Regions from separate parts of the Homo sapiens genome. Here regions 2 and 3 are each linked to region 1. Evidence: fine-mapped expression QTL. A gene starts in region 1. Each other region holds a variant in brackets. All regions are shown on one strand. Distances are between the middles of the regions.

Region 1 (9,969 bases):
CCTCCTGGGTACTCAGCGCCTCTCTGCTCTGTTGGATTCCCCAGTGTCCTTTTAAGAAAGTCTGGCAGGGCATGGTGGCTCATGCCTATCATCCCAACACTTTTGGGAGGCCAAGCAGGAAGATGACTCAAGCCTAGGAGTTCGAGACCAGCCTAGGTAGCACAGTGAGACCCTGTCTCTACAGAAAATAAAAAATAAAAAATTAGTTGGCCATGGTGGTGCACACCTGTGTTCCCAGCTACTCAGGAGAACGAGGTGGGAGGACCCTTTGAGCCCAGGAGTTTGAGGTTGCAGTGAGCTAGGGTCATGCCACTGCACTCCAGCCTGGGTGATAGAGTGAGATTCTGTCTCAGAAAAATAAAGTCTCCCCTTTCTTTGCAAGTTAGTCATAGTTTCTGTTGTGCACTCTCTAGAAAACCACATCTGTTCACCAACTCTCTTCTGTGTTAAGGACTGGTGTCACTTTAGCCTGCCCCAGAAAAACTTCTCTTTAAAGAGAAACTATTCCTTTTTTTTTTTTTTTTTTTTTCAGACGGAGTCTTGCTCTGTTACCCAGGCTGGAGTGCAGTGGCGCCATCTCAGCTCGCTGCAACCTCCACCTCCTGGGTTCAAGCAATTCTCCTGCCTCAGCCTCCCCAGTAGCTGGGATTATAGGCGTGCACCATCACGCCTGGCTAATTTTTGTGTTTTTAGTAGAGATGGGGTTTCACCATGTTGGCCAGGCTGGTGTTGAACTCCTGACCTTGTGATCTGCCCTTCTCTGCCTCCCAAAGTGCTGGGATTACAGGCGTGAGCCACCATACCCAGCCAAGAGAAACCATTCTTATACCCTGAGGAATGATGGTGAAATTTCGAAATTGTGACAGGTATATGGGGTTCAGGGATGCCCAGAACCCCCAGCAATGTTGCTTATGCAGGGGATACCCACCCAGGCATATTGACATCAGGAAATTTCAGACAACTCAACTCAGAAGGAAACAAAGTGACCCTCCAGCTCCTTGAAAACCCAAGAGGTGACAGAAAAGGGGAAAGGAGAGAGGAGGAAAAGGCCTGGGAAGGAACATTCATCCCATAAGGTGGCCAAGGGATACCTTGGCTGGAAATGAGTCTGGGCCACGTTCCCTGGTGAGGAACTTTTAGGAATCATGGAATTGCACAGCAGGCCTTCAGATCCTGGGCCCCCATCCCTCATCTTTCGAATGGGGAGGTCGAGGCCTGGGGAGGGAAGGCATGGCCCGGAGCCCACACAGGCCCCAGAGAGCAGCTGAGGAAGGCAGGTCCGTTCCCAGGAGGAGTCTCCCGCCTGGATGGCACTCTGATCAGCACGTCACTGGCCTGTCTGTGTGTTGAACTGACTTCAGGAAGCCTTGGGGTCACAATATTGCAGAGGCCATTACAGGGCCAGATGTTGGACGTGGAAGCAAGGCCAGGCCACGTCATACCCTGAGGTGACTAGTCTGTGGGTGGCTAAGGGCAGTCTGGTCACAGGACTCCAATTCCCAAAATGCCATGACACCCTTCACCTTTCCTCTGCAGGGACAGTCTATTGTCTCTGCATACAGGGAACAGGCTCTGAGGGGTTAGGAGACAAGTTCAAGACCCCCTAGCTGGCACCTGGGAGAGCTGAAGCAGACCTCCTGGCCCATCCCATCATTCCCTTCTTCCTCCCATGGGATGCAGGGAGACAGATGAGGTGTTCCCGACCTGCCAGTATAGATGGCTCCCAAACTCCTCTGTGGAACAAGTCTTCTTCTTCTTCTTCTTCTTCCTCGTCTTCTTCTTCTTCTTCTTCTTCTTCTTCTTCTTCTTCTTCTTCTTCTTCTTCTTCTTCTTCTTCTTCTTCTTCCTCTTCTTCTCCTCCTCCTTCTTTTTCCTCTTCTTCCTCTTCTTTTCTTCTTCTTCTTCTTCTTCCTCTTCTTCCTCTTCTTCCTCCTCTTCCTCCTCTTCCTCCTCTTCTTCCTCTTCTTCCTCTTCTCTTCTTCTTCTTCTTCTTCTTCTTCTTCTTCTTCTTCTTCTCCTTCTCCTTCTCCTTCTTCTTTTTTTTTTAATAGAGTCTCACGCTGTCACCCAGGCTGGAGTGCAGTGGCACAATCTCAGCTCACTGCAACTTCTGCCTCCCAGATTCAAGTGATTCTCCTGCCTCAGCTTCCTGAGTAGCTGGGGCTACAGGTGAGCACCACCATGCCCTGCTAACTTTTGTATTTTTAGTAGAGATGGGGTTTTGCTATGTTGGCCAGGCTGGTCTCAAACTCCTAGCCTCAAGTGATCTGCCCACCTCAGCCTCCCAAAGTGCTGGAATTACAGGCATGAGCCACCATGCCCAGCCTGTTCTGGTTCCTCTCATGGCAACAGATGGAAGGTTCAGGACTCAAGACTCAGTCTTGCCAAACACAATGTGAGACAGTCTCAGCTTCCCACTGTGCCACCTTCAGCCTCCAGCCCAAAGACGGGCAGGAACCTTCACTTGCAGGAACGGCCTGAGGAAAGGGAGCCCAGAGCCAGTGGAGGCGGGGGTCTGCCTGCGTCCCAGAGCCAAGCCCCCTCCTCTTTCCTGTATCCTTGTTGCAGCAAACAGATTGGCACCTGAACCTCTCTATTAGCCCTTCTGGGGCTTAGGCTGTGGGCGCATGGGGCCATGCACTAAAAATGTCTTTCACCTTAGTTGGGATGCAAAGAGACAAGTTTGCCACTAATCTTTCGGTGGAGACACACATATCAAAAATCGCAAGTGAGCACACAAGGCTTCCTGCAGGGAATTGCAGCCTTCCTGCTCCTCCCTCGCTGCAGAGGCTGAGCCTGACTTTCAAAAAAGGGCACGCAGCCCTTGGCAAATCTCGGAGGAAAACTCACTGCGAGTTGGTGCCAGGGGCCTCAGGCCCCCTTTGGGGATTTCCCCCATGGCCTCTCAAAACAAGAAGGAAGTCTGAGTTAAAAATGGAAAATGGAGAGAATGTCAAAGGAATGCAGCGTTATTGATTCCTAGTGGTGTCTGCCTGAATATTAGATGCAAATAAGTGCTAATAAGTACAGTTGGGAAAGCTAATGGAAAAACCATCCTTCCCAGGAGGATCGCGGCACACAGATGCACAGTGTTGCTGAGATGGCTTGGCTCGCTCCACTCACTGGTCACGGCAAAGCCTGTATAGATGCATCCCAGGGAAATAAAGCCTGTGTAGACTTGTCGCATGGAAGTACTCATGGTCCAGAGCCCCCTTTCCAGCTTTGAGGCTGGGCTCTGGAAATGGGAGCTCCTATTATCTCCCCATTGCAGTTAAGTCTCTCTTTCTCTCTCCGTGTGTGTGCATGTGTGTGTGTGTGTGCATGCATTTGCCCTCTGGAGTGTTCATGGTACTGAAGAGATTCTCTTGACCATCAGGCCTCTGTGGCAAAAGTTGTGTGCTCTGTTCCAGGCCTAACTGCAGACAGGGAGCTCATGGGCAGCTGCCCAGCCAAGCTATGGTCAGGACCTTGGGTGGCAAGAGGGGCTGCAAGTGTGGGGTAAGGGGACCACAGGGACAGGGATGGGGTCATTGCACTGTGAGCTAGTCCGGCAAGTGACTTTTTGCTCACTCCACTCTCCCCTCTCTTTGTTCCTACCTTCTCTCCTGCTCTGCTCCAACAGCTTTGGGATGTAGGATGAATAAGGGTTCCACTGCCCTGTTTTTCCTGACACTTGAGTCCCTGGCCCTTGCACTCAGCTCCTCCAATCTGCACCTGACTGAGGCGGAGGAGGGTGATTTCAGACACACACACACACACACACACACACACACATTCCCCTCATGCGTGCAGCCAGTGGAGTGTGCCTGGGTCCCAGCGCAGCCCCAGGCCTGGGTCACTCCGAGCCTAAAGTCCTGGAAAGGGAACCCCAGAACAAAGCCTATCCCAGTTTGGAATCATCACACCTGGGCCATTCTCCAGATGCGTGGAGTCCAGCAAAATGGTGGCATTTTTGCATCTCAATTCGCTCATCTGTAATACGGGAGTGATAATGTCTACTCTGTTGCTGCAAGAATTAAAGGAAGACCATGATCTCTTTGTCATGCTTCTATTTATCTTCTTATCTGTCCTGGTCTATTTTTGGATGCTCTGAGCTTACCTGGGGCATTAAGGAGGCCTCATGGCCCTGGGGCTGAGGGGCTCCCTGGCCGTCCCCAGGAGTGGCTCTGCTCTCCGCCTGGTGTCCCCCACTCTGGTCAGTCAAGACCCATGGGCCCAGCTCACTCCCCAATTCCATCACTCACTCTAGGTCAGCTGGTAGGAGTCAGGCCAACCAGCCAGCAGGTACCATTAGAGAGGAGAGAGTAAGGGTCTTTCACTTTATTAAAGGCTTCTCTGCTGTTGTTTGAAAATACTGAGTGTCCCTTCAAGACTAACAGGTGACTGTGTGCACAGTTTCCTCCAGCTCCTGTGAGAAAGCAGTTGCCCCCCTTCCCAAGGCCTGCTTGTCCCCTGCAGGCTGGGGCTGCCTCTTCTTAGGAAGAACAAGGACCCGAATCCAGGGCCCCGTGTTCCTGTCCCTACTCTGTCCCGGTGCTGTGTGGCCGTGGGCCGGTTCCACCCTCCACGCTGTTTTCCCGAGTGTGTATGAAGAGGGTCGGTTGGCCCCGCTCTCAGGCTGGTGACCCGACACAAACTTCCAGGATGAAGTCCTGAAGGGAGCACCTGTTCGCAGGGCACTTTCAGCAGAATCTAGAGCCCCAGGGATTTGAGGATGGATGCGGACACCCGGGCCTGAGGCAGCTCGCGGCCTTGACCGAATTCCACGCGAGCTGAAGCCCAGGGATATCCCAGAATCTTCCTCAGGATCAATCTTCCGCCTTTCACCGGCCCTGCGCCCCCGCAGCATCGGGTCCTGGGCGCGCGCCCCTGCCCCGCTGTGGTCAAGGCCCGCCCCGGTGACGCCTGGTCCTTTTCCCGGGTTGGCGCCGCGTGCGACCCACCGAGGCAGTGGCAGCACTGGCCGCGGTCTGGAGCCTAGCGTCAGGCCGGAGTCCGGCTCTCCTGAACCGGGAGACCGGCGCAGCCCCAGCCACGACCGCTCCCACCCCCGCGGCCGCCGGACCGCGCCCAGCAGCGACTCTTTCTGAGAGCGCTGCCAGAGGGGCCGCGGGAGCCGCAGAGCGCGCGTGGGCGCGGCGCCCGCGAGCCCCCGGGAGGGCCGAGTGCATCGCTGGAGCGATCCCCGCCCGGCCCGGCCACCGCCGTAGCCGCCACCACGGCGGGGCGGGGCACGGGCCGGGGGCGGGGCGCCGGGCGGGCGCGGCGCTATTTCCAGCCTCGCCGGAGGCTTCGCTCTCACTTCGCTGGGAGCCTTCCCGGCGCGCAAGCCGGATCCGGCAGTGCTGCGGGGAGGAGAGAGGACGAGGCGGCGGCGGCAGCAGGAGGTGGGGGACCGATCGCGCCGGGGGCCGAAGAGGAACGCCGCCCCGCGCCCTCTCGCTCCCCGCACGCTCCGGCTGCCGGCCCCACGCTGCTCGCCCACAGATCGCACTGGGTTCCGCTTGGAGCGGGCGGAGGCACCGGGCCCGAGCTGGGTCGGAGGTCCTCTCCGCCGCCTGCGCGCCCCAAGCAGAGGATCCGCCGCGGAGAACCGCTCCCGGACTGGAGGCGCCCGCGGCCTCGGGTGCGTCCGCTGCGCCAGGTAAGTGGCTGCGCCCCTGCCCCACCCCTGTTCCCGCCCTGCGCAGGCTCCTGGCCTGCAGAGACGCCAGGAAGGGGTCCCGAGCGGGCCCCGGACTGCACCGCTCGCCATCCCCGCCACCGCACGCGAATGGGAGTCCGAAGCTGCGGGCGGAGGTGGGCGCGCGGGGCTCGGGTCTGGTTGCACTTTGGGGACCGGCCCCGGTAGCGGGAACTTTAATTAGACTTTCTCTCCTTGGATCTCACTCGCTGCCGCGCTTCTGGGAACTGCCGTCCCTCGGGCCCTCTTGGTCCCTGCGGACTCCCGCTCCGCCTCCTGGCCCTCGGTGCTGCCCGCGGGGAGGCGGCGTCGGGCGCTGAGCAGCGAGCGCCGAGGGCCAGGCAGGAGCGCTCGGGGCGCTGGGGCTTCCTGGCGCGCTCGGAGCCGGGGCTCCGGACGGGTTGCGGCGGGCAGAGACTATGGGGGAAGTTTAAGTGGCCTTGGCTTCCTACCCAGCGGCTCCGTCGCGCGCGTCCCCGACCCGCAACTCTCCAGGGCACCGGCCTGTGAGTGCTGGAGGCGAGTGTGCGTGCGTCAGCGATGGTGTGAAGGTGTGTGCGTGCGTGTGTCGGGAGTGCGGGAGTCGGAGCCTGGGGCGGCTCCAGGGGGCGGGGAAATGATCCGTTTGGCCGCGGGACCGAGCCGAGCTCTGACGGCGGCTGCAACTCCGGCTACCGACTCTGCAGACCCGCTCTGGCCTCGCTGGAGGCCAGCCGGGCCAGGAGGGCGATCACGGGTTTTGGCAGTGCCCGATGCTGGGGCTTGGGTCTGATGTGACCCCGATTCCTTCTCCAGTGCGGGACTCCCGCCGCCCTAACTTTCGCGTACATCTTGTCTCCAGGCCCGCGACCCCGACCCGGAGTTGAAGCGGCTGCGGCGCCCTCGGCTGTGGGCGCTGCTGCCCGGCTGTCTGTTTTAACCCAGAAGTAGGCGCCGATCCTGGGGCTCTCTGTCCTGCAGTCGTCTCCGGCGTCCCAGAGGACTCTGCGTCCCTGGGCCACTCCCGCTGGCTCAGGAGCCGTGATCAGCTCCGTTAAGGGGAACGCGCGTCCCGGCCCCTCTCCATCTGCTTGGCGCGATCTGGCGCAGCAGCAGAGCACGTGGGAGAGGCGTTGGGTGCAGGGAGGTAGTAGCTGCTTTGGAGTGGATGGTGGAGAGGGGCGGGGGACAGAGGGGTAAGAGGCAGATCAACCCCCTTTTATTTCCCACCGCCGCCCAAGGCCCCCAGGAGCTACAATACCAAGCCCACTTTCCTGGGTAACCTTTCTCTTCTGAGTTCACCTTGACCCTTGCCTACCTGTGGGGAAGTCTTTCCCTAAGTCCTGCCCTAGGACAGGGCACCCGTGGAGCAGGTGTGGCAGAGCCCTTAACATTTTCCAGCTGTCATGACCTTTCCTGCCCACCCTGTGCCCTGTCCCAAAGGCAAGGCAGACAGGCCACAGGAAGGACACTCATCCCAGCAGGAGATCCTCTTTTAATTTTAATCAGGACACCCCAAGCACAGAAGGCGGCGTGGGAGTTCATTCAGGAGCGTTCAGCAGACTGGCCTCTGTGAAGTGACCCACGGGAGGAATAACATTGGAACCCTGAAGAGAGGGACCTCTTGAGGGTCTGAATGTTGGTTCCAGTGGGACTGGCTGATCAATTATCCAATAGCATTTGAACACAGAAAAACCTCAAAGCCGGAACCTGACCCATTGCCTGGCCCAGTCGCCCTGGGACACACAAACAGTGCAGCTCATTTATTTACTTATTTATTTATTAACCTGGAATCAGACTCGGCAAGAGTGAATTATGTTTCCCGGGTATTGATTTTTAAAAAGACCCCAAATTAAAAAGTCAAGGCTTTCTTAAAGCAAGGTCAAGGATTAATTATTTATCGAGAGGCATCCATCAGGCAGCGTGGGGGCTCATTTATAAATTGCCTGAGCAGGCAAAATGAGCATCTTTTGATTTTCCTTGGCTCCAGTTGGGAGAGGAGAGCAGGCTCGTCTGACCTCCTGGGCTTGGTAGAACATCCCCCTCGGACTGTAACCGACGACAGAGGATGCTTTGTAACTCAGCCTGCTGTTAGAGATGCCTTTATAATCTTGTAGCCAGAATATCACTTGGGAAATTTCATGCATATTTGCTGTGTTTCCATAATGAACATTTACTGATTACAGGGTATCCAGGGAATTTCATTTTTTAAACATTTATTCAAATCTCTGTTTATGTAAGCTAATAAGTCTGGGAAAGTTCAAAAACGACTTTTTTGCCGTATGGTTGTTGAGAAAGTGTGTCTGGTGGGCTACTCTCAGAATTTGTCTTCAGTTCTCTTAAAAAGGGGAGAGTCAGATTTGCCTGATTGGAAACCTCGCGCAGGCTGCTCCCCTGCTCTGAGCTCTGAGTTCCTGCCAGAGGCAGCCTGATAGGCTTTTTGTGGTTTTGCTGATGGAAGAGAGGAAGGGGAGCTTTGATCATTGCTGATGCGTCTGGCTGGAGAAATTTTTAGTGAGTGCGGCTGTGCTTGTAGGGGCTGATGGGGAAGGTGTGGCCCAAGCTGAGGTCCCTGGCTGATGTCCCCATCTCCTGCCTGCTGCCTGGCCTGGAATCTGAGATCCCTGTCTTAGCTACATCTGCTGCTTTGCAGCTTGGAAAAACCTCCCTCCCTGATTTACTGGTGCGTGGCAGCCACACTGGAGAAACGTGGGGCAGCGGGGAACCTGTGAGCAGGAAAGAGGACACAGGATTATGGCAGCTTTCTTTCTTTCTTTTTTTTTTTTTTGAGATAAAGTTTCACTCTTGTTGCCCAGGCTAGAGTGCAATGTTGCGATCTCTGTTTGCCACAAGCTCTGCCTCCTGGGTTCAAGCAATTCTCCTGCCTCAGCCTCCCGAGTAGCTGGGATTACAGGCATGCGCCACCACTCCCGGCTAATTTTGTATTTAGTAGAGACAGGGTTTCACCATATTGGCCAGGATGGTCTCGATCTCCTGACCTCGTGATCCGCCCACCTTGGCCTCCCAGAGTGTTGGGATTACAGGCGTGAGCTACCGCGCCCCGCATGGCTGCTCTTTAGTGAGCAACCGTGGCAATTAGAGCCGATAAACACCATGTGGAATGAGTGGCCAGCCTTTCAGCTAACCAGAAGGTGACGAGTTATAAACTGGAGATTTATATAGTGCTGGCCCAAGGAGATCAATGTGACCCGGCAGTGGCACAGCAAAAAATGAAATAAATAAGTAAATATGTTTTTAAAAGATCGGCCAGGCACGGTGGCTCACGCCTGTAATCCCAGCACTTTGGGAGGCCGAGGTGGGTGGATCACTTGAGGTCAGGAGTTTGAGACCAGCCTGACCTACGTGGTGAAACCCAGTCTCTACTAAAAAGACAAAAATTAGCCGGGCATGGTGGTGCTCACCTGTAGTCCCAGCTACTCAGGAGGCTGAGGCAGGAGAATCACTTGAACCTGGGAGACAGAAGTTGCAGTGAGCCGAGATCATGCCCCTGCACTCCAGCCTAGGCGACAAAGCGAGACTGTCTCAAAATAAATTTTTTTTTTTAAATTGAGGTTGGTGCCTGGATGTAGATATGGCATCAGTGTCCTGCAACCTCAGAAAGTTGGCTGGGCATGAGCAATCTGCATGGTGACAGCGTGGTGACAGTAGGCTGTTTGGTGCTGTCTTTGGCGCCATATTCAGGGCTCATCTGACTCCAGAGCGGCTGTGTTCCCTCCAGAGGAAACCCACGGACCCAGACAACCCGGGGACAGAGCTGCATTAGCTCAGGTGCCAGAGGATGCGGCAGACGCCATCTCATTTCTTATCAGCTGGAGGATGTGTGACCCTGTGGTCAGTAAATCAGCATGGCAGATCGTGAGGCTTACAAATTGGTCATGGAAAAAAGTTGTGACTTTTACCCTGTACAAAACTACCTGTCATTTGTGATGTGGTGTTCTAGCCTGCACTGGCTGGATTCATTCCCGGACCCTTAGAAACTCAGCAATGCAGCCTGGGCCACCGAGAGACTGGGGAAGCCTCCGTGCAGGTGGGTTGACACCAAGAAGCAGCCCTGGCCCCATTGCCAAAGCCACCTTTTAGGAAGTCAGAGAGTATCTGTGCAATAATTTGGATGTTTGTCCCCTGTGAATCTTACCTTGAAATGTGATCCCCAGTGTTAGAGGTGGGGCCTGGTGGGAGGTAGGTCATGGGGGTGGCCCCTTTATGAATAGATTAATGCTATTGTGAGGCAGGGAGTGAGTTCTTGCTCTATTAGTTCCCACAAGAGCTGGTTGTTAAAAAGAGCC
Region 2 (9,969 bases), 71 kb before region 1:
CTCTTGGGTAGAGAAGCCACTTCAATGTGGCAGCTTCAATTCTGGCAGGGATTCATCAAAAGTCCACAGTGTTTCCCGCACCTTCCAGGTCCCCTGTCTGTCTGGGGTCACCCAGGACCATCTGTCTGTCACCACAGCGGTGTGGAATGCTGAGGATCACCTCTGTGGTGACAGACAGATGGCCCTGGGTGACCCCAGACAGTCGAAAGGATGACTTACAAGTGGCCCAACTGGAGAGATTCCCATAGGGCTGGCTGCAGTGGAAAGTTGCTGCCAAATGCCCATCTCGTTCCATAACCCTCTCTTGGTGCAGCAGCAGTGCATACAAGTGTCCCAGAGGGACAATGACGGCTGCTTCAGCTTGAATCACAAGGGAGGAGGTAGGGTGCTGGATACACTCAATTATCACCCCAAACCCTATCATCACTCATAATCTGCCTGAGATAAATCACAGGCAGGTAATTATTATGTCAGGCCAGGTAGCAGAGAGGAGTTCTAAAATAGCAGTCAAGGAACTTCCTGGTTAATTCAAATCCATCCTAACTCCCTCCAGGGGACAAAAGTGCTTTGGCTGTAGAATTGACCAGGCGGAGAGAAATACGATTGCTTGATGCAAAATGGGAACTCCTGGACTTAATGTTTCTCTCTGTCAAGTTTCAGAATAGCACACCTGTCAGAAACCCTAAATCAATGATCCACCATCCGGCGTAAATCATACTGCAGGGATGTCCTATTTTCTTGGTGTCAAAACCAACCTCCCCAGCCTGCTCGCCAGACCGTGTCCACTTCTGCTCAGCCCAGGCCTCTGGACCCAATTAGTCCTGCCTGCTTGGCTTCCCACACCTGTACTTCTTCCCCCATCCAAATGCCACCAAGGCCCAGCTCAAGCCACCTGGCCCCCAAACCTTCTATGCCCAGGCCCATCCCTGGATCCAGCTTAAGCGATTCCACTTCCTGTCCCCACTGCAAAAGGCCAATGCTGGGTTTATCCATCCCTGAACTGGTCACAACCCCAGATCTGTGGCTCTCCTAGAGCTGGGTCTCCCTGTTCTTATCCTTTTGGCTTCTGGAGCCAGCTCTTCTGCTGGGCAACAGAAACTGCTTTGGATTCACTTAAGCCAGAAGAGTGGAGGTGGGTTTACTGGAAAGATGCTGTTTGTGGGGAGGTTTCTTGGAGTGCCAAGGAGCAGAACACCCGATTCACCCGGGCTGAGTAGACCCCTGTCCAGGGCAGGCTGGCCTCAGGTGGGGCTGGATTCAGGCACAATCTCTGGGCTCTGGCTGACTCTGTGGACGACTTTCCTAGGCTCTTCATGGTGGCAGAGTGGTTGCTTACACCTGTCCAAGTGCAGGTCCACTTGGACATGGCAGACGATTACTCCAAGTTGCTCAGACAAAAGCCCTGGGCTAGGGCCAGGTGCAGTGGCTTAGCCTTTAATCCCAGCACTTTGGGAGGCCGAGGTGGGTGGATCATCTGAGGTCAGGAGTTTGGGATCAGCCTGGCCAACATGGTAAAACCCGTTTTTACTAAAAAAAAAACAAAAAACAAAAATTAGCCAGGCGTGGTGGCGGGCGCTGTAGCCCCAGCTACTCGGGAAGCTGAGGCAGAAGAATCGCTTGAACTCAGGAGGTGGAGGCTGCAGTGAGCTGAGATCACACCATTGCACTCCAGCCTGGGTGACAGAGTGAGACTCCATTTCAAAAAAAAAAAAAAAAGCCCTGGGATTAGTCTTCATGAGGCCTGACTATGTGACCAGAGGCACATGCCCACCTCAGGGCCAATCCTGGTGGCCACGGGAGAGCAGTGTTCTCATGGGCAGAGGCCCTGGGTCACAGGCTGCTGCCCAGGTGGACGGGGCAGCTCCACCTGCAGCTCATAGACTGAGAACATGGGAGTAGTGATTCCCACAGGTCAATCAGGGCACCAACAAGAAGGAATGGATGGTGGGCAGCTCCAGACCAACAAACACCGAGAAGTTGGCTCTCTGGACCAGAGAGACTGCTGAACAAAATCAGACTGGCCTGGAGGCTGGAGTTTTGGGGTTTTCCTCTCCCTGGGACTGGCCATGAATAAGGCACTCAACTTCACCACCTCTGGTTCCTGGAAGAGAAAATCCACTTGGCCAGTTCTGAATCACAGGTGCTGCGGCCAGGGCCTGGCCGAGTCTTGGGTACATTTCCAGAGAAGGCAGAAAGGGCTTTGAGAGCCAGGAGACATCCTCCCAGCAGCTGCTAAAATGTGGATGTCGCTACTGTTTTTGTTTTTTTTTTTAGACGGAATCTTGCTCTATCACCCAGGCTAGAGTGCAGTGGCGAGATCTTGGCTCACTGCAACCTCCGTCTCCCAGGTTCGAGCTACCCCAGCCTCCCGAATAGCTGGGATTACAGGCGCCTGCCACTGCGCCCAGCTAATTTTTGTATTTTTAGAAGAGACGGGGTTTCACCATCTTGGCCAGGCTGGTCTTGAATTCCTGACCTTGTGATCCACCCGCCTCGGCCTCCCAAAGTGCTGGGATTACAGGCATGAGCCACTGCACCCTGCCGGATGTTGCTACCGTTGCAACGCAAGCCACCTTAACTTTTTGTTTACCCCAAATTAGAAATTAAACAATTTTATTTTCAATGTCACCAGTATGTGATGCAATTTCATGATGATGGTTTATCTGAGTAGAAAATTGCCCTTGGTATCTATTCTACCCTCCTCTGCTCTGGAGGCCTGGGTATAGCTGAAGCCACAGCAGGGATGGGGGCAGGTAGGGAGTGGGAGTTGGCGAGTTGCCCATTTTCTCCCTTCCCTGGGGTCAGGAGGAAAAAAAATGCCATTAATTTTGTTGTGATGAAAACCCCATCTCTACTAAAAATACAAAAATTAGCCAGGTGTGGTGGCAGGTGCCTGTAATCCCAGTTACTTGGGAGGCTGAGGCAGGAGAATCGTTTGAACCCGGGAGGCAGAAGTTGAAACAGCGCCACTGCCCTCCAGCCTGGGCAACAGAGTGAGACTCCATCTCAAAAAAAAAAAAAAAAAAAAAAAAACCCACAGATAAATTTGGAGAGAACTTGAATCTTTACAATAGCGAGTCTTCTCATCTGGGAAAGGCCCATTTCTCTCTGATCCTCCAGGATGTTCTCAGCTCCAGCCCCTCTCCCCCACCATCCCAGGAATAGCAGTGACCTTTTGTACATATGCCTTAGTCCCTCATCCTCCAGATACATTTAAGCGCTTTGTCTCAGGCCTCCCTGCCAAGCCCACATCTGCCACCAGCCTCGTGTCCTCTCCTCCCCAGCCTCAAATCCTGCGCTGGCTGGATTTAGGAACTTGGGCGGCATGTTCCTCCACACCTCCAGGCTGCGGTTCACCGGCACGCTCCTCCTGTCTCATCCACCAGGGATTCCTATCTGTCCCTTACATTGTTTCCCTCTCTGTAGAGCCAAGCGGGAAGGGCCATGTTCACCTTTCAGCTCGGTGCCCCACCCCCATCCCCCAGTTGCTCACTCACATGCACAAGTTCATCTTGCTGCACCAATGAGTCTTCTCCTCCATGCTCACCCAGTCTTCCTTGGATCCCCAGGTGTCGTCCTGGGTGTGTCCGGTGGTGGGTGCTCAGTAAACGCTTGCTGGATGGAAGGGGAGACAGCACCACTGTGGGGGGCGGGGACTGTGTTTCCACCAGCCCTCGGTAGGATCTTTTTTTTTTTTTTTTTGAGACGGAGTCTCGCTTTGTCACCCATGCTGGAGTGCAATGGTACAATCTCAGCTCACTGCAACCTCCGCCACCCGGCTCCAAGCGATTCTCCTGCCTCAGCCTCCCGAGTAGCTGGGACTACAGGCGCCCAACACCACTCCCAGCTAATTTTTGTATTTTCAGTAGAGATGGGGTTTTGCCATGTTGGCCAGGCTGGTCTCATACTCCTGGCCTCAGGTGATCTGCCCGCCTTGGCCTCCTAAAGTGCTGGGATTACAGGCGTAAGCCACCATGCCCAGCCCTGGATTGAGAATGTTCTAAAGACAAGAGCTTTTGGGAACGCTGCAGCAGGAGACTTGCAGGTGTGCAGAGGGCTCTTGGGGGCCTCATGAGCAGCTGGAGGTGACCCCTCTCCCCACATGTCTTAAACAAGGGTACTTGGCCAAGACAGTACAACTGGAAATAAAGACAACGAAAAACAGTCCAAAGATTAGAAAGCAAGAGACAATATTATCATTCTTGGCAGAGAATGTTTATATTTACCCAGAAAGTCCAAGA[G/T]AATTCATTGCAAAACAGAACTGCTAAGAAAGCCTGGAAAAGTGGCCTGATAAAGACCCATAGCTTCCTGCATGCCAGGGACGAGCTGACTGGAAAATAAAGTGGAAAAGGCCTCATTCACAGCATCAATAAAGTGATAAATGACACCAGCTTAACATGAAATAGGCCAGACCCATACAAAGAAAAAGAGAAAACCATAAAAAGGGCAAAAAGACGTGCCTCGTTAGAGAGAAATGGTTCTTCCCCGGATGGGAAAACCCGCTAGCGTGAAGATTCAAGTTCTCTCCAACTTTACCCGTGTTTTTATTGCAATTCCAATGGGAAAATAATTCCAAAAACATTTTCACTGGTGTTTGCCAGAAAAATGCTTATGTTCCTCAAAAAGAGGAGGTGCAGGCTGGGCGCGGTGGCTCACGTCTGTAATCCCAGCACTACAGGAGGCTGAGGCAGGTGGATCACTTGAGGCCAGGCTGGCTAGCCTGGCGAAACCCTGTCTCTACTAAAACTATAAAAATTAGCTGGGTGTGTTGGTGTGTGCCTGCAGTTCCAGCTATTCAGGAGACTAAGGCAGGAGAATTGCTTGAACCTGGGAGGCAGAGGTTTCAGTGAGCCGAGATCATGCCACTGCCCTCCAGCCCGGGCAGTAGAGGAGGTGTGGTAGGGCTGAGGCGCATTGCCATACCCCTGTGTGCATGCCTGAAGGGACAGGGAGGGGACTTCCTCTCCAGCTGCCTAGAGGAATATTGCAGCCAGCTCTCTTAGCAAAGCCACATGGTCACCGTGAGCTTGGGAAGTGTGGGGGCACCTCCTATGTAGTACTGGCTCTGAGAGGCTTGGGCCTTAGTGCTGTTTTCCCCTAGTGGGGGTCCCTGGACAAATGATGTTGCCAGCAGTGTGTTCCAAAACCACCACGGTGGGAGGGATGAGCGTCTCCTGCAGGTCATGACACTCCAGGCTGGAAAGCATCAGAGAACAGAGCATGGCTGTGGGCCCTGGGGAAGGGGACCTGTCTTAGTCTGTGTGGGCTGCTATAACAAAATGCCTTAAGCTAGGTGGCTTATAAACAACAGAAATTTATTTTTCACAGTTCTGGAGGCTGGGAAGTCCAAGATCAAGGCCCAGGCAGATTCGGTGTCTGGTGAGAGCCCGTTTTCTGGTAGAAGGTGGTGCCTTATATGGTGGAAGGGGCCAGGGAGCTCTTTGGAGCCTCTTTTATATGGGCACTCATCCCATTCACCTCCCACAGGCCTCATTTCTAACACCATTACATTGGTGATTAGGTTTCAACATATGAATTTGGAGGGGAGTGACTGAACATCCAGACCACAGCACGATCTAATTGGCTGAGCCCAACTCACAAACTAGACTTGCGAGATGGCTGTCTGCCGAGGTCTCCTTGGCCCTGACCGGGCAGAGGGGGCTCAGTAGGGCTCTTGAGGGTCTCAGCATTGTGAAGAGCTTGGGGCAGAAGGGTAGGGCAAGACAGGAGGATGGTGAGGGCCTGGCTGTTGGCCACAGAGTGACCTCTGTCCCCACCCTCTCCCGGGGCTTCCTAGGGCTGGGAGGCAGAGCCTGGAGTCTTCTCTGGTCTGCAGCTCCTTTGTTGTGTGACCTGAACTATGCTTCTGCTTGGTGTCTCAGTTTCCCCATTGGTAACTGGGGCGTTGACTGGATTTCAGGGCTCAACTGGGCTCCCTTTCTCGGCAGGTGGAAATTGCCATCTTATAAAGGGGAACCTGGATGCTGCTGGCTGGGAGCACTGGGTGGACCAGGCCACAGCCGAAGGCCCAGGAGAGGTGGAGAGAGGCTCCATCCTGAGTGGGGCTCTTCTAGGCCCTAGAGTCTCAGGCCACTCATGCCACTACAGAGGGAGAGACAGGGGCTACATAGGGAGGGTGTGGACCAATGAGGGGTTCAGGGTTCCCAATCCCACATCACGCCTTCCCGTGAACCTGGAGATCTCTCCTGTCCCAACAGGCCTGGAACCAGCTGTTGGCATCAAGGCCTTGCACGCATGACCCAGACAGCTTCCCCTCTCCCTCCTTCCAGCCTGCTGCTTCCATACTAGATTCGGGGCCATTTTGCCGCAGGATTCATCGGAGGGCCGAGAGGGAGCTGCCGGCTTTTCCACCTCCGAGCCGAGGTTACTCTCAGATTCATGGGAAGCCATAAACCCGCGCCCTATTTCTGCTCTAATTGAAGCGATTTGTATTGTGACTAAAATAATCAGAGACAATTTTATTGGTATATTTTTAAAAATAATTACAGCCCATATATTTATGTTATATAACTGCAGTGACAATTTGATTGGGTTCCCCAGGGCCCCAACTTGAAGAGCCTGTGTGGGAGTGGCCCCATCCCTGCCTTCAGCACCCTCCACCTCCCCCAAATCTCGGGCAGAGGTGATGTTGACAGATGCAGTCCCCAAGGCCTGAGGCTCGGTCAGGGACTTTTCAGTGGGCATGTCTTAAAAATTTTGGGACAGCCATGCCAGCCCAGCGACCCCAAAGCGCCGTAGGGAGGTTGGGAAGAGATGGAGGGGGGCTCTGGAGTCTGGCTCAGCTCTGGCCTTTGTGGTGGGTGTCTGTGCCCTGCCATCCAGCATGCAGTCACTGACCTTCTTCTGTTCTTCTCTGGGGACCTCCTGCCTTTGTCCTCCTGCTTCTGAACAGCTGACTGTCCCAAAAACTCTGGGGTTGACCAATCAGAGCATCACATTCTCCAGCCATGGTGATTGGTTCAGGGCTAAGCACATGACCCAATCAGAGCCAATGACATTGCACATGCCCCAGATGGACTCCCGAACGGTTGGGGATCCCGAGCCGCAGGCTGCCATCTTGCCCCATGTGGGCACTGGAGAATGGGGCTAGTGTAGAGAAGACCCTAGAAGAGAGATGTGGATGGGACAGGGTCCTTGTGGCATCATTTGAGATTCTGAACCTGGAGCTGGGGCTGCTCCCAGAGTTTTTGGATATATGAGCCAATACATCCCATTTTGGCTTAAACCTGCTGTAGCTGTAGGACTGTGACCAAGAGTTCTATTTCTATGAGTCCCGCAGGCTTGTTTCCCCACCTCTAAAGGGAGAGAGTAATCACTCCCGTGGTCTGTTATGCCTCGTCATTATCTGTGTATAGTAGAGATATCTTGGTGTATAGCACCAAGCACAGGACTTGGACAGAGTTAACCACTCAATAAACAGCAGCCATGGCCGTCGTCAGGAGCATTGTGGAGCACTGGATGCTGTCGCTGGTATAAGGTGTGGGCAGAGGAGACAGGGAGAGGTTACCAGGCAATGTCCCAGCCCAGAAGGAGGCCCTGCCCCCACATGCTTATAGGTGGCAGAAGCACGGTTCCTGCTGGCTCAGCAATGCCTCCTTGCCTTCTTCCATCAGGGCCCCTCCTGCTCAGCCAGGGTCCCGTACTGTGCCCAAACCAGTTCTGCATTGTTCCTCCCCAAATAGCTCAGGCTGGAAGGAAGGAGCTAGGGAAGTGAGGAGGGGCTAGGGAGGGGGAAGAGCAGCGGCCATAGCTCCAGCACAGTAGGATCTGACTATGGGCGGGAGAGCCTCGATCGCGGGGTGCTCTGGTGCCCAACTTGGCTCCTTCCTCTTAGCGATCGCCCCAGCTCTTTGCTGAGCTGTTGGATGCCTCAGTGTTCCCAGGCAAATCCCCCTGGGGCCCTACCTTTGGAGCTGAGCTGTGTCTGGCCTGCACATCCACCAGCACCACACCAACACCGGGCACTGAAGACCAAAAGCGGATCCAAACTCCCACCCGCTCTGAGCAGGTTTTCTCTCCTACGGCAGCCTTCACCCGGAAGCCACAGCTGTTAAAGCTGCTAGCGGGTGGTGAGGGCCTTGTGGTTCTGCACCCAAGAAAGCCTTCTCTTCACTGGCTTCAAACCATCTTAGTCTTAGATAGCAGCACGGGCCTCAGGGATAGCCCCCAGGTCTACCTTGTGGGAATGACACCTTCCACTCCTGGAGGCTTGTCCCATGAGTCCACTAATAGGGAAAGGGCTGAAAAGAGCGCTGGGGCTGAAACATTCAGCTGGCTGTTGGGTCCCCAGGCCCTCCTGACTGCACAGTTTAGTGGAGACGTGCAAACTCGCCCAGTTGCACACACTCACATGTACACATATGCACACGCACACACACACGCACACTTTCACATGGGCATGCCACACATACACACATATGTGCGTGCTCATACCCACGCACACTCTCACATGGGCTTGTCACACATACACACATGTGCGTGCTCACATCCACACACACTCTCACATGTGCACAATTGCACACATGCACACTCTCACAGGGGCATGTTCACACCCACGCACACTCTCACATATGCATAATTGCTCACATCGGCATGGTCATACACATGCATACTCACATTGTGTACACTTACACACACACACACACACACTCCTACACATGTCCACACTCTCATGCATGCTCTCACATGAACCAAAATACTTGCCTCTTCTGCCTATAGCAGAGCAGAGGTGCGTCCGTCGATGCCCCATGGTGTTTCTCAGGATCCACGCATCCCATGTACTGAGTGTTGTTAGCCGGGAGATTGCCTGCTCCTGTGTGGCTGCGCTCTCACCAGTCCTGAAGGTCCTTATAAACATTGGTGCCACCCATCTTGTAGGACATTCTCTGCCCGGCCCCAGGAGCCTCAGCAGAGGTCCCCTGATTTCAAACATTCTTTTCTGTCATTAGAGCTTATGTTCCACAGATGACTTTGAAAATCTTGCCACCTTCACAGGCCCAGACATGACGGTGCAGAGGACATCAGGACCAGCAGGACATAAAACCCTCACGGTCACAGGGAGAAAGTCAGATCCCGGGCACCTGACACAGCCAAGCCCTGCTCTCAACATGTGTATGACAATGGGTGTGATAGAGGTGCCCCCTGCCTCTGGGTCTGGGTTACATGCCCCCTTCTTTGAGTCCTAGAGGGAACAGCCTGATAGTGGGCACACCCCTTCCTCTCCCTGAAATGACCTGGCAGACCCCCTTCCCCCAGTGATGGCCTTAGGGATTCCCAGCCATCACCCCTCCCTCCAGGAACCCCTCATCCCATCCTTCCATAGGGCCACCACACAGACAGGCCCTCTCGACCTTTCCCACCATGCTCTGCACAACTAGGATGGGCAGTGCCCCACCCAAAGCACTGCATGCCCCGCTCCCCATTGTCACAGTAGGTACAGGACATGGGTCTATTAGATCTTAGACACTACAGTCCGTACATGCCAATCCATTCCCAGAAGACCTCCCCTCCCCACCCCAGTGTCACTGAGCCACTTCCTCCAGCACAGCCCCACGGAGGGAGGCCCTTTTGTGTCTTGCCCATCACCTGGCTGGCCAGATCTGCTCAGCTCTTCCCTGACTCAAGAAAAACAAGAGAGCTTCATTAGTCCGTTTTCATGCTGCTATTAAAAACTGCCTGAGACTGGGTAATTTATAAAGGAAAGAGGTTTAATGACTCACAGTTCAGCATGGTTAGGGAGGCCTCAGGAAACTTACAATCATGGCAGAAGGCAAAGGGGAAGCAAGACACCTCCTTCACAAGGCAGCAGGAAGAAGTGCAGAGCCCAAGAGGAAGAGCGCCTTATAAAACCATCAGGTCTCGTGAGAACTCACTCACTATCACGAGAACAGCATGGGGAAGCTGCCCTCATGATTCAATTACCTCCACCTGGTCTCTCCTGTGACACAT
Region 3 (9,969 bases), 52 kb before region 1:
TGTGTATGTAAAATGCATTTGCGGGGCCAGTGGTAACTGACATAGCCTGTAACTTACCAGGTGTGAGATGTATAAATGAAGATGGCCATTGTCTGAAGTGAGAAGAATGGGATAAAAAAAAGAAAACAAAAATCGGAGAAGTCCTACTGAAACTCAGTGAAAGCGTCAGCTACATTTTGCAAACTTCAAGGAGTTTCTGTCAGGTGCTAGGCTGCTGAGACCAGAGTGAATTTTTGGCTTAAAGCAGACATACAGCCCTCTCTCCAGGGGAGGCAGCATGGTGTGGGAAAGAAAGTCAAGGACACGCTAGTGGAAAGTCATGTCCTCCTCTCCAGGGTGAGCATGCAGGGGCGGCAGCCGTTGGGGAGATGGGGCCAGTGCCTGCCTTGTCTTAAGGGCCTGCAGACACCCCAGCTTCAGATACATGGGCACAGTCTTGGCTGCACCTAGAAGCCCTGGGATGCTGACGTGAGCATTTCCTGGGATGGAGGAACTCCTTCTTGAACCCCCTCAAACTTGCAGAGGTGGGCTAGACATGAGTAGGCTGCTCATGAGCACCTTTTGTGTCCGGGAACCAGCAGTCATGAGGATGCTTTGTTGACCGTGAAGACCCAGTGTTTCCAGCAGGCAGAATTCTGTGGCCTGGCCTCTTCTCCAATGGCCCCTTCACCACTGTAGTGAGCTCCATCTGCCCTTGGGGCCCCCTTCCTGAACAAGAGAGATGCAGCTCACTCACACAGTGGGATGGGGATGCCCTCAACTTGACAGGCAAAAGCCTGGGCATGAGAGTGAGCTCAGCTATCCAGCCCCCTGAAGAAAAGACAGATGGAGCAGAAAACCGTATTGTCATGATATCAAGGAAAGAGAAAAAACAGAATTCTAAAAATATTTACTCCAGGAAACAGATGTAAGGTTTTCTTTCCAAAATGAAAACATTGAATCTGCAAACCAAATGGGGAAGAGAGGATGAGGACAAGCTGTGGTGGAAATGGAGCTGGTAGTCAGGTAAAGCATCCAAGGACACAAACATCACAGCAAAATCGCAGAAGGGTCAGCGACAGGGAGAATCTGTGAGAACCCTGCAGACAGTGGACTCGGTGACATGGAGCATAGGTTTGAGAGGCTTTTTCAGAGTGCACCAAAAACAAAACAAAACAAAACAAAACAAACGAACAAAAAAAGGACCAGAGAAGTTAGAAGCAATAATCGGCAGAGCAGCGGCTTTGAAGAAAAGAGATTGGAAATCCAATCAGGAGGATGGGTGTTAATGAAGAAAGAACATGACTAACAAGGAAGAAAAAATATTCAAAAATAAAAGAGGAAAACCTGGCTGAACTGAAGACAGATCTAAATCTGCAGGTTGAAAGGGTTTGCTAGAGACCAGGCAAAACTAGTAAACATCAAAAGATAGTGGTGACACACTAATCGCTTGGATTCATGAGGAATGAATACCTACAAAGACATAAACAGCAGGCTGCCTTGGTTCTCTCCCTGCACTCCTTACCGCCTGCCCTCCTTGGAGTAGGGCCTCACCCTGCCTTCTCAGCATCTCTTTTCTTTCCTTTCCTTTTCTTTTTTCCTTCCTTCCTTCCTTCCTTCCTTCCTTCCTTCCTTCCTCCCTCCCTCCCTCCCTCCCTTCCTTCCTTCCTTCCTCCCTCCCTCCCTCCCTTCCTTCCTTTCTTCCTTCCTTCCTCTCCCCCCTTTCTCTCTCTCTCTTTCTCTCTCTCTCCCTTCTTTTCTGACAGAGTCTTGCTCTATCGCCCAGGCTGGAGAGCAGTGGTGCAGTCTCGGCTCACTGTGCAACCTCTGCCTCCCAGGTTCAAGTGATGCTCCTGCCTCAGCCTCCCGAGTATCTGGGATTACGGGTGCCTGCCACCACACCTGGCTAATTTTTGTATTTTTAGTAGAGATGGGGTTTTGCCATGTTGGCCAGGCTGGTCTGAACTCCTGACCTCAGGTGATCTGCCCGCTTGGCCTCCCAAAGTGCTGGGATTACAGGCGTGAGCCACTGCGCCTGGCCTCTCAGCATCTATTTCTCTGCCTTCTTGATCACCCCTCCCTGCGCCTCAGTCCATCATGGGGGAATCCCAGGTGAGATGCACTTGTACTCCTAGCGTTACAGGAAAGGGATCCCAATCCAGACCCCAGGAGAGGGTTCTTGGATCTCGCTCAAGAAATAATTCAGGACAAGTCTGTAGAGTAAAGTGAAAGCAAGTTTATTAAGAAAGTAAAGGAATAAGGAATGGCTACTCCATAGACAGAGCAGCCCCGAGGGCAGCTGGTTGCCCATTGTCATGGTTATTTCCTGATGTTACGCTAAACAAAGGTGGATTCATGCCTCCCCTTTTTAGACCATAAAGGGTAACTTCCTGATGTTGCCATGGCATTTGTAAACTGTCATGGCGCTGGTGGGAGTGTAGCAGTGAGGACGACCAGAGGTCACTCTCGCCTCCATCTTGATTTTGGTGGGTTTTGGCCCACTTCTTTACTGGAAACTGTTTTATCAGCAAGGTCTTTATGACCTGTATTTTGTGCTGACCTCCTATCTCATCCTGTGACTTAAAATGCCTTAACTGTTTGGCAATGCAGCCCAGTAGTTCTCAGCCTCATTTTACCCAGCTCCTATTCAAGATGGAGTTGCTCTTGTTCACACGCCTCTGACACTAGTCGTCTCACTGCAGAGCTGCTGAGCTGCCTTGGATACTGGGCTAATCTTCAGAGACCAGAAGCTGGCAAGGCTCACAATATGAGCCTTGGCTGCTCACACCTTCCCCCAAGGGAATCCCTATGTGCAGATGGGGTTTGGATAGGCAGAGGGGAGAGACCCCTCCTTCTGCAAATTCAGGCCAAAGATGGGTCAAGCCCTGAAGAGCAGAAGCCACATAACTTTTGGGCCACACTGTAGACCCAGTGGGTGAACTGCTTTTCTCAGCCAGCAGGTCCACTGGGGCTCACCCAGGCTAAGCTAGATGCCCCCTGGCAAGGTTGCCAACTCCCTGACCTCTACCTAACGACCCAGGGAGGGGAATGGCTTGCCAGCCCATCACTCCTGCAGCAACTGTGGTGGGAAGGATGAGAAACGTAATTAAAATCTCAGGCATCTTTTCCCAAGGGTCATTCCAGCTGAAGAGCCTAAATATCATAAGGGTATGAATGAGCTGCATTTATTATTTTCACCATGGAGACGTCCAAGAAAACTGACCTTTTCAGCTTCAATAAAAACGGATTTTCCTGCAGATACTTTGACAACAGCTGTGATCATGAGCTTGGCTGAAACTTAATATTAAACACCAAAGACCAGGAAAAAGAGATGCCTTCCCAAGGCCTGGGAGAGTTACTGACACCCGCTTGCAATTAGACACTGGTATGGGCATGGCAGCCTGAGCCCAGCTCACAGAGGCTCACTCACTCCTCTCTGGATCCAGATGGCTGAGGAACCCACTCAGCATCAAAGCCACCTATTATTTACGCGTTTAGTTTAAGGCATGTAGCACGGGACTCAGAGCAAAGCTGCAGTAGCAGACTGCCCTGGAATTCAGCAGGACTAGGTTCCGGTCTGCTTGGATTCAGCATCCCCTCCTGTCATGTGACCAGGAGCCCCAGACATCACACTCTGGCTCGTCTTCCCCTAAACACAGCCCAGAGCTGACCCTCCTGCCATGACTTGGCCATACTAGTTGGCAAAAAGCTTGCCAACTTCCTGCCCCACCATTTCTACTGACCATGGTAGCCAATACCCAGAGGAACAGATGACAGTCAATGGCAGCTGCTGCCTTGCACTGAAATCAGGTGTTGGACAGTAACAAAACCTTGAGTTCCCTCTAAACACCTGTGCCTGACCCCAGGCATTTTGTCCTCCCTGTCCCAACCCTGCTGAAACCACCTTTGCCAAAATTATGACTGAGAAAATTATTACAGTAAAAGAGATCTGACTGAACCAACTCCGTCTTGCTCCTAACCTCCAAGTTGTCCTTGTTCATTCCTGGGCATAGGCCGAACTAACTTTGGGAGGAACTTGGTTTACAGTTTAATTTTGAAACAAAGATGATAACAGCCTTTTCCCAAAACAAACCCCCTTCTTGCTTGGGGACTAGACTGCCTTTGCAGGACTAAAAAATTAGCCACATAAGATTAGAAATTATGGTGTAGGAGTCACTGTTGCAAAATCTGAGATTGGTGCTTTTGCAGATCTTCTGCTCCAGTGCACCAGCTGATGCCACCCAAATCGATAAACTGGCTCATCTGGTCTTGGGGCCCCCCACCCAGGAGCTGACTCAGTGCAAGAGGACAGCCTCACCTCCCGATGATTTCATCTTCAACCCAACCAATCAGCACTTACCACTTTCCAACCTTCTACCCACCAAGTTACCCTTAAAAACCCTTGTCCCCCAATTTCTGAGGAGATTGATTTGAGTAACAACTCTGTCTCCTGTGTGGCGTGGCTGGCCTCTTGTCAGTTAAACTCTTTCTTTACTGCAATGCTGTGGTCTTTATTTGTGCAGTGGGCATGAAGAATCTCTCAGGTGGGTACACTGCCACCATGAAAGTGAAGCAATTTAAAAAGGTATAAAACAATAAGGACAAAGGCAAATGAGGAGAGAGTAGCAACGAGAGATTTCAATGAATTTCAGAAGGCAGAACTTGGAGGAAGGCAATCTTACTAGGCAGAGCAGAGAAAGCACCTGAGGTGCTTTAGAGGAGACTGGTGAGCATGAGCCTGTCAGAGATGTTTGAACCACAGCAACTCCATCTTGAATAGAGGCTGGATAAAATGAGGCTGAGACCTACTGGGCTGCATTCCCAGATTGTTAAGGCATTCTAAGTCACAGGATGAAATAGGAGGTCAGCACAAGATACAGGTTATAAAGACCTTGCTGACAAAACAGGTTGCAGTGAAGAAACCCACCAAAACCAAGATGGAGACGAGAGTGACCTCTGGTTGTCCCCACTGCTACAATCCCACAAGCAGCATGACAGTTTACAAATGCCATGGCAACGTCTGGAAGTTACCCTCTATGGTCCAGAAAGGGGAGGCATGAATAATCCACCCCTCGTTCAGCATATCATCAGGAAATAACCATAAAAATGGGCAACCAGCAGCCCTTGGGGCTGCTCTATCTATGGAGTAGCCATTCTTTTATTCCTTTACTTTCTTAATAAACTTGCTTTCACTTTACAGACTCATCCTGAGTTCTTTCTTGCACAAGATCCAAGAATCCCCCCTCTCTTGGAGTCTGAATCCAAACCCCTTTCCTGTAACATGCCCATTAACACAGAACCTCAGGCAAGTGGTGGGGATGGATTCCGGAAGCTGGGACTGGGAATGAGAGTTTAGGAGGATTAAAAACAAGGGAGTTGGATGAC[G/A]TCACAGAAGAGTGCAGTTAGAAGCTGCAGGAATCTTTCCCTCCACCCTAACAAGTTTTGATCTGGCAAGGGCTGTCTAAAGCAACTATTTTGGAACTCTGCAGTCTAGTTGAACACGTTCGGCATCCAAGAGAAAACTTAATGGAGAAGCTGGTGAATTTTAATACATTTCCATGTTTGCGTACTGGCTACCATCCCCCACCTGCCAGCCCCGTGGCAAACAGCTGTGGGGACAGTGGCCTGCATTCCTGGTGTGACTTGCTGGTGCCAGGGTGGGGAATAAGAACCTTATCCTCCAAAAATTAGAGTTGTGTGTTTTGATTGCTGATCCTTTTGACCTCTGGGGGACTGGCACAGAGTCCAGCCATTGTTTCAGATCACAAGAGCTAGAGCAGCTTTTCTGCTGTGAGGGGATTTAAAGAGACATGACTTCCCTGTTCCCTCCCCTCACCTCAACAATTTTGGGAGCCAAACATTTAAGGAAATCTTTGTCAGGTCATTGACTGACAGAGACAACGGAACAGGAACTTCAAGGACCACATGCAATAAGCAATCACAATTTGTAAAAATAATCTGGAAAAAAATCACAGATGGATGGCTCCATCCTTAACAAGCAAAAATCCACAATCCTTGAGGAGTGTGAGAGTTAGAGTTCCAGGATTACCACAATAATAATCAGAATGCCCAGTACTCAACAAAAAAAGTACAAAACATACAAGGAAATAGGAAAGTATGACCTGTTCACAGGAAAAGAACATTTGACAGAAACCATCCCCGAAGAAGACCAGACATAGGAATTACTAGTCAAAGACATTAAATCAATTATCTTAGACACATTTAATGAGCTAAAAGAAACCATGGATTAAAAAACCAAAGGAAATTGAGAAAATAATGTCTAAAAAATGAGAATATCAATAATGAGAAATTATAAGAAAGGAACCAAACTGGTCTTGGAACTGAAAAATACAATAACTTAAAATGAAAAACTTACTGGAAGCATTCTACAGCAGATTTGAGTAGGCAGAAGAAAGGATCGGCAAACATGAAGATAAGACAATTGAAAGTATCCAGTCTGAGGAACATAAATAAAAATGAATGAAGGAAAATAAATAGAGCCTGAAGGATTTATGGGATGTCATCAACTATAACTATGCATTATAGGAATTACAGAAGAAGGAAGAGAAAGGGGCAGAAAAACATATTTAAAGAAATTGTGGCTAAAGGCTTCCCAAATCTGATGAAAGATATGATATAGATACTCAAGAAGCTCAACAAACTCCAAACAGGATAAACTCAAGAGATCCATACTGAGACATATTATACTCAAATTGCCGAAACCAAAGCAAAGAGAGAATTTTGAAAGCAACAAGGGAGAAGCAATTCATCACGTACAAGGTATCATCAAAAACTTAATAGCTGATTTCTCTTTAGAAACCCTGAAGGCTAAAAGGCAGTGGGGTCACATATGAAAGTCCTGGAAAAAAAACTCAATCAAAAATTCAACATCTGGCAAAACTATTTTTTAAGAATGAGGGAGAAATTAAGACATTTCAAGAAAAACAAAAGCTGAGGGAGATCATTACAAATAGACCTGCCCTAGAAATGCTAACAGGCTGGATACACACACACACACACACACACACACACACACACACACAAGACAGTAACTTGAAGCTGTAAGATGAAATAACACTAACACTGGTAAAGGTAACTACATAGATAAATATAAAAGCCAATATTATTTTTCCTTGGTTTGTAACTTCCTTTGGTTTGGATTGGTTTTGGTTTATACTTTTGGTTTGGTTTGTAACTTCTCCCTTTTTCCTACCTGATTTAAGAAACTAATGTATACAACAATAATTGTAAGTCTATGTTAATGGGCACATAAGGTATAAAATGTAATCTGTGACAATAATAATGTAAAGAGGAGGGATGAAGATGTATAGGAACAGAGTATTTATATTCTATTGAAACTATTATCCAAATTTAATTGTTATAAGTTTAAGATGTTATTTGTAATCTCCAAGGTAACCACTAAGAGAATAACCTAAACACATATAGAAAAGGAAAGAAAAATGGAATCAAAATGATACACTACAAAACAAATCAACTAAATTTTTAAAAAGGCAGCAATGGGGGAATTATACAACAAAAATCATGTAAGACATACAGAAAACAAATAGCTAAATGGCAGAAGTAAATCCTTCTTTATCTAGAATATATAAAAACTCCTGCAAATGGACAATACAACAACGAAAATCCCCAAACAACTCAATTTTAAAAATGGGCAAAGAATTTGAATAGAAGTCTCTCCAAAAAAGATATACAAATAGCCAATACAAGATGATTGGCTAATATCATTAGTTATATGGTTCAGCGTCCAAGAGTCCAATATGCTCAATATCATTAGTCATTGGAGAAACGCAAATCAAGACCACAATGAGATATCACCTAACACCAATTAGAATAGCTATAATTTACAAAAAAGAAAAAAAAGTTTAAAAGCACACCAGAAAATAACAAGTGTTGATGAGGATGTAGAGAAATTGAAAAACTTGTGCATGGCTAGTGGGAATGTAAAATGGTGATGCCCCAGTGGAAAACAGTTTGGTGGCTCTTCAAAAAGTTGAACATAGAATTATTATGTGATCCAGCAATTCTGTTCCTAGGTATATATCCAAGATATTGAAAAACAGGGATGAAAATAGATACTTGTACACCCATAAGCAGAGTGTCACTGGTGAAGGGTGTTCAGGTTCTTGGCATTTTGAACAAAGAATTGGACAAAATGCAGAAACAAAGCAAGGAAAGAATGAAGCAATGAAAGCAGAGATTTATTGAAATAAAAGTACACTCCATAGAGTGGGAGCAGGCTTGAGCAAGCAGTTCAAGAGCCCCCTTGCAGAATTTTCTGGGGTTTAAATACCCTCTAGAGATTTTTTTTATTGGTTACTTGGTTTACACCCTATGTAAATAAAGTAGTGGTTTGCAACCAGTCTAATTGGTTGCAGAAGGTGGCCAACCAGAAGCCGAAGTGAAGTTACAAAGTTACAGATGAAGACTTGGTCTGTGACCAGTCTGATTGGTTGCAAGAGGGGACCAATCAGAGGTACTTTCGTCTTTCATCTGCAATGCAGAAAAGGGGTTGGGAGTTGCAAAGGGAGTAGCCACTGATCCTTTTGTTACTTAAAGGTAGGGTTTTCCTCTTGATTCAGTTCTAGGAAGTCAGCATGGATCAGCCTAAGGTTCTCTGCCTCCAGACTCTATTCTCCTGCCTCAATAGCTGCATTTTTCAAAATAGCCAAAAAGGTGTAAACAACCCAAGTGTCCATTAATGGATGAATACATTTTAAAAAATGTGAGATATATATATACCTGCAATGGAGTGTTATTCAGCCCCAAGATGTACTGAAATTCTGACCCATGCTACAACATGGAAAAACCTTGAAAACACTATGCTAAGGAAAAGAAGCCAGACATAAAAGGGAAAACATTGTATAATTCCACTTGTATGAAGTATCTAGAATGGCCAAATAAATACAGACAGAAAGTAGAATAGAGGTTCCCAGGGGCTGGGGCAGGAAGGTATGGGGTGTTATTTCTTAATAGGTACAGAGTTTCTGTTTTGGATGATGAAAAATTTCTGGAAGTAGATAGTGGTAATGGTTACAAAACATTGTGAATGTACATACTGCCACTGAATTGTACACCTAAAAAGGGTTAAAATTGGCAAATTTTATGTTACATATATTTTACCAAAAAATTTCAAAACCAGAGGAATTGGTGAAAAAGCTGTAAATTGAGCTTCTGAAATGCCAGAGTCTCTCTCCTTGCTCAATATCCAGGAGATGAGAGGCTGGAGTTTCATTTTATTAGGAAATTGAACCAAGGAGTTGAATTTTAGGGCATCAGGCATAAGAGATGTCTGGGGAACAGTGTGGATTGCTAGGCCTCCTTCACTCACCAGATATGGCATTTCCCCAGTCACATACCACCCACCCACCACCACCAACCCCCACACACACCACAGCACATTCCACACACCATGCAAACACACTCCATGTTCCTGGCTAGAATATCAGCAGGTTCTTTCTGGAATAACTGGGCTGTCACTGAGAGAAGAACCCCACACATTGCATATGTAGTCTGTCCAGTAAAAAGACCAGCCTGTTGCTTGCTCAGCCTCCCAGGAGTCCCGAAAGAGAAGAAATGTAGAAGGCTCAGTCTGCCTGGTCAACAGCAGTCCACAAAAGACAACAGAAAAAACAAATGGGAGGAAATTGTAAAAATACTATAAGGCAGTTTCCCATGGTTGAGGGACATAATTCTCTTCAGTTAAAAAGCCCACCAATTGTCCAGCACAAGAAATGAAGTAAGTTTACTTCAGGGTTCATCAAGGTCAATTTTTAAGTGACAGAGATAGGAAGAACTAAATGTTTTCAATGAGAAAAAAAGTATAGAGCCTGTGATGTGCCCCTCTGATACCCCTTCAGGAAAACATGTGTTGTCCCAGATGTCAGCAGGTGGCTTCCAGATCTCAGCCCTTCAGGGGTCTCTACGTGTTACAGAGAGGCACCTCGCCCCAGGTCATGCCTAGGTGATCCA

What was found.
Region 2: its variant is fine-mapped to the expression of CHST8 in ovary (GTEx, PIP above 0.99).
Region 3: its variant is fine-mapped to the expression of CHST8 in tibial nerve (GTEx, PIP 0.91).

The regions. Positions count from the first base shown.
Region 1 is chr19:33,616,653-33,626,621 of GRCh38, forward strand. CHST8 (carbohydrate sulfotransferase 8) reads left to right here and starts at 5,301. Exons shown (of 5, transcript NM_001127895.2): 1 at 5,301-5,644. RefSeq lists an enhancer at 4,262-5,006.
Region 2 is chr19:33,546,053-33,556,021 of GRCh38, forward strand. LOC100996681 (a long non-coding RNA gene) reads left to right here and starts at 7,036. Exons shown (of 3, transcript XR_158931.5): 1 at 7,036-7,498; 2 at 9,016-9,969. The variant G/T (reference allele first, on the strand shown) is at 4,242.
Region 3 is chr19:33,564,668-33,574,636 of GRCh38, forward strand. No RefSeq gene overlaps it. Among named protein-coding and RNA genes, the nearest start is that of PEPD, 48 kb to the left of the region's middle. RefSeq lists enhancers at 1,646-2,478, 2,479-3,310. The variant G/A (reference allele first, on the strand shown) is at 5,365.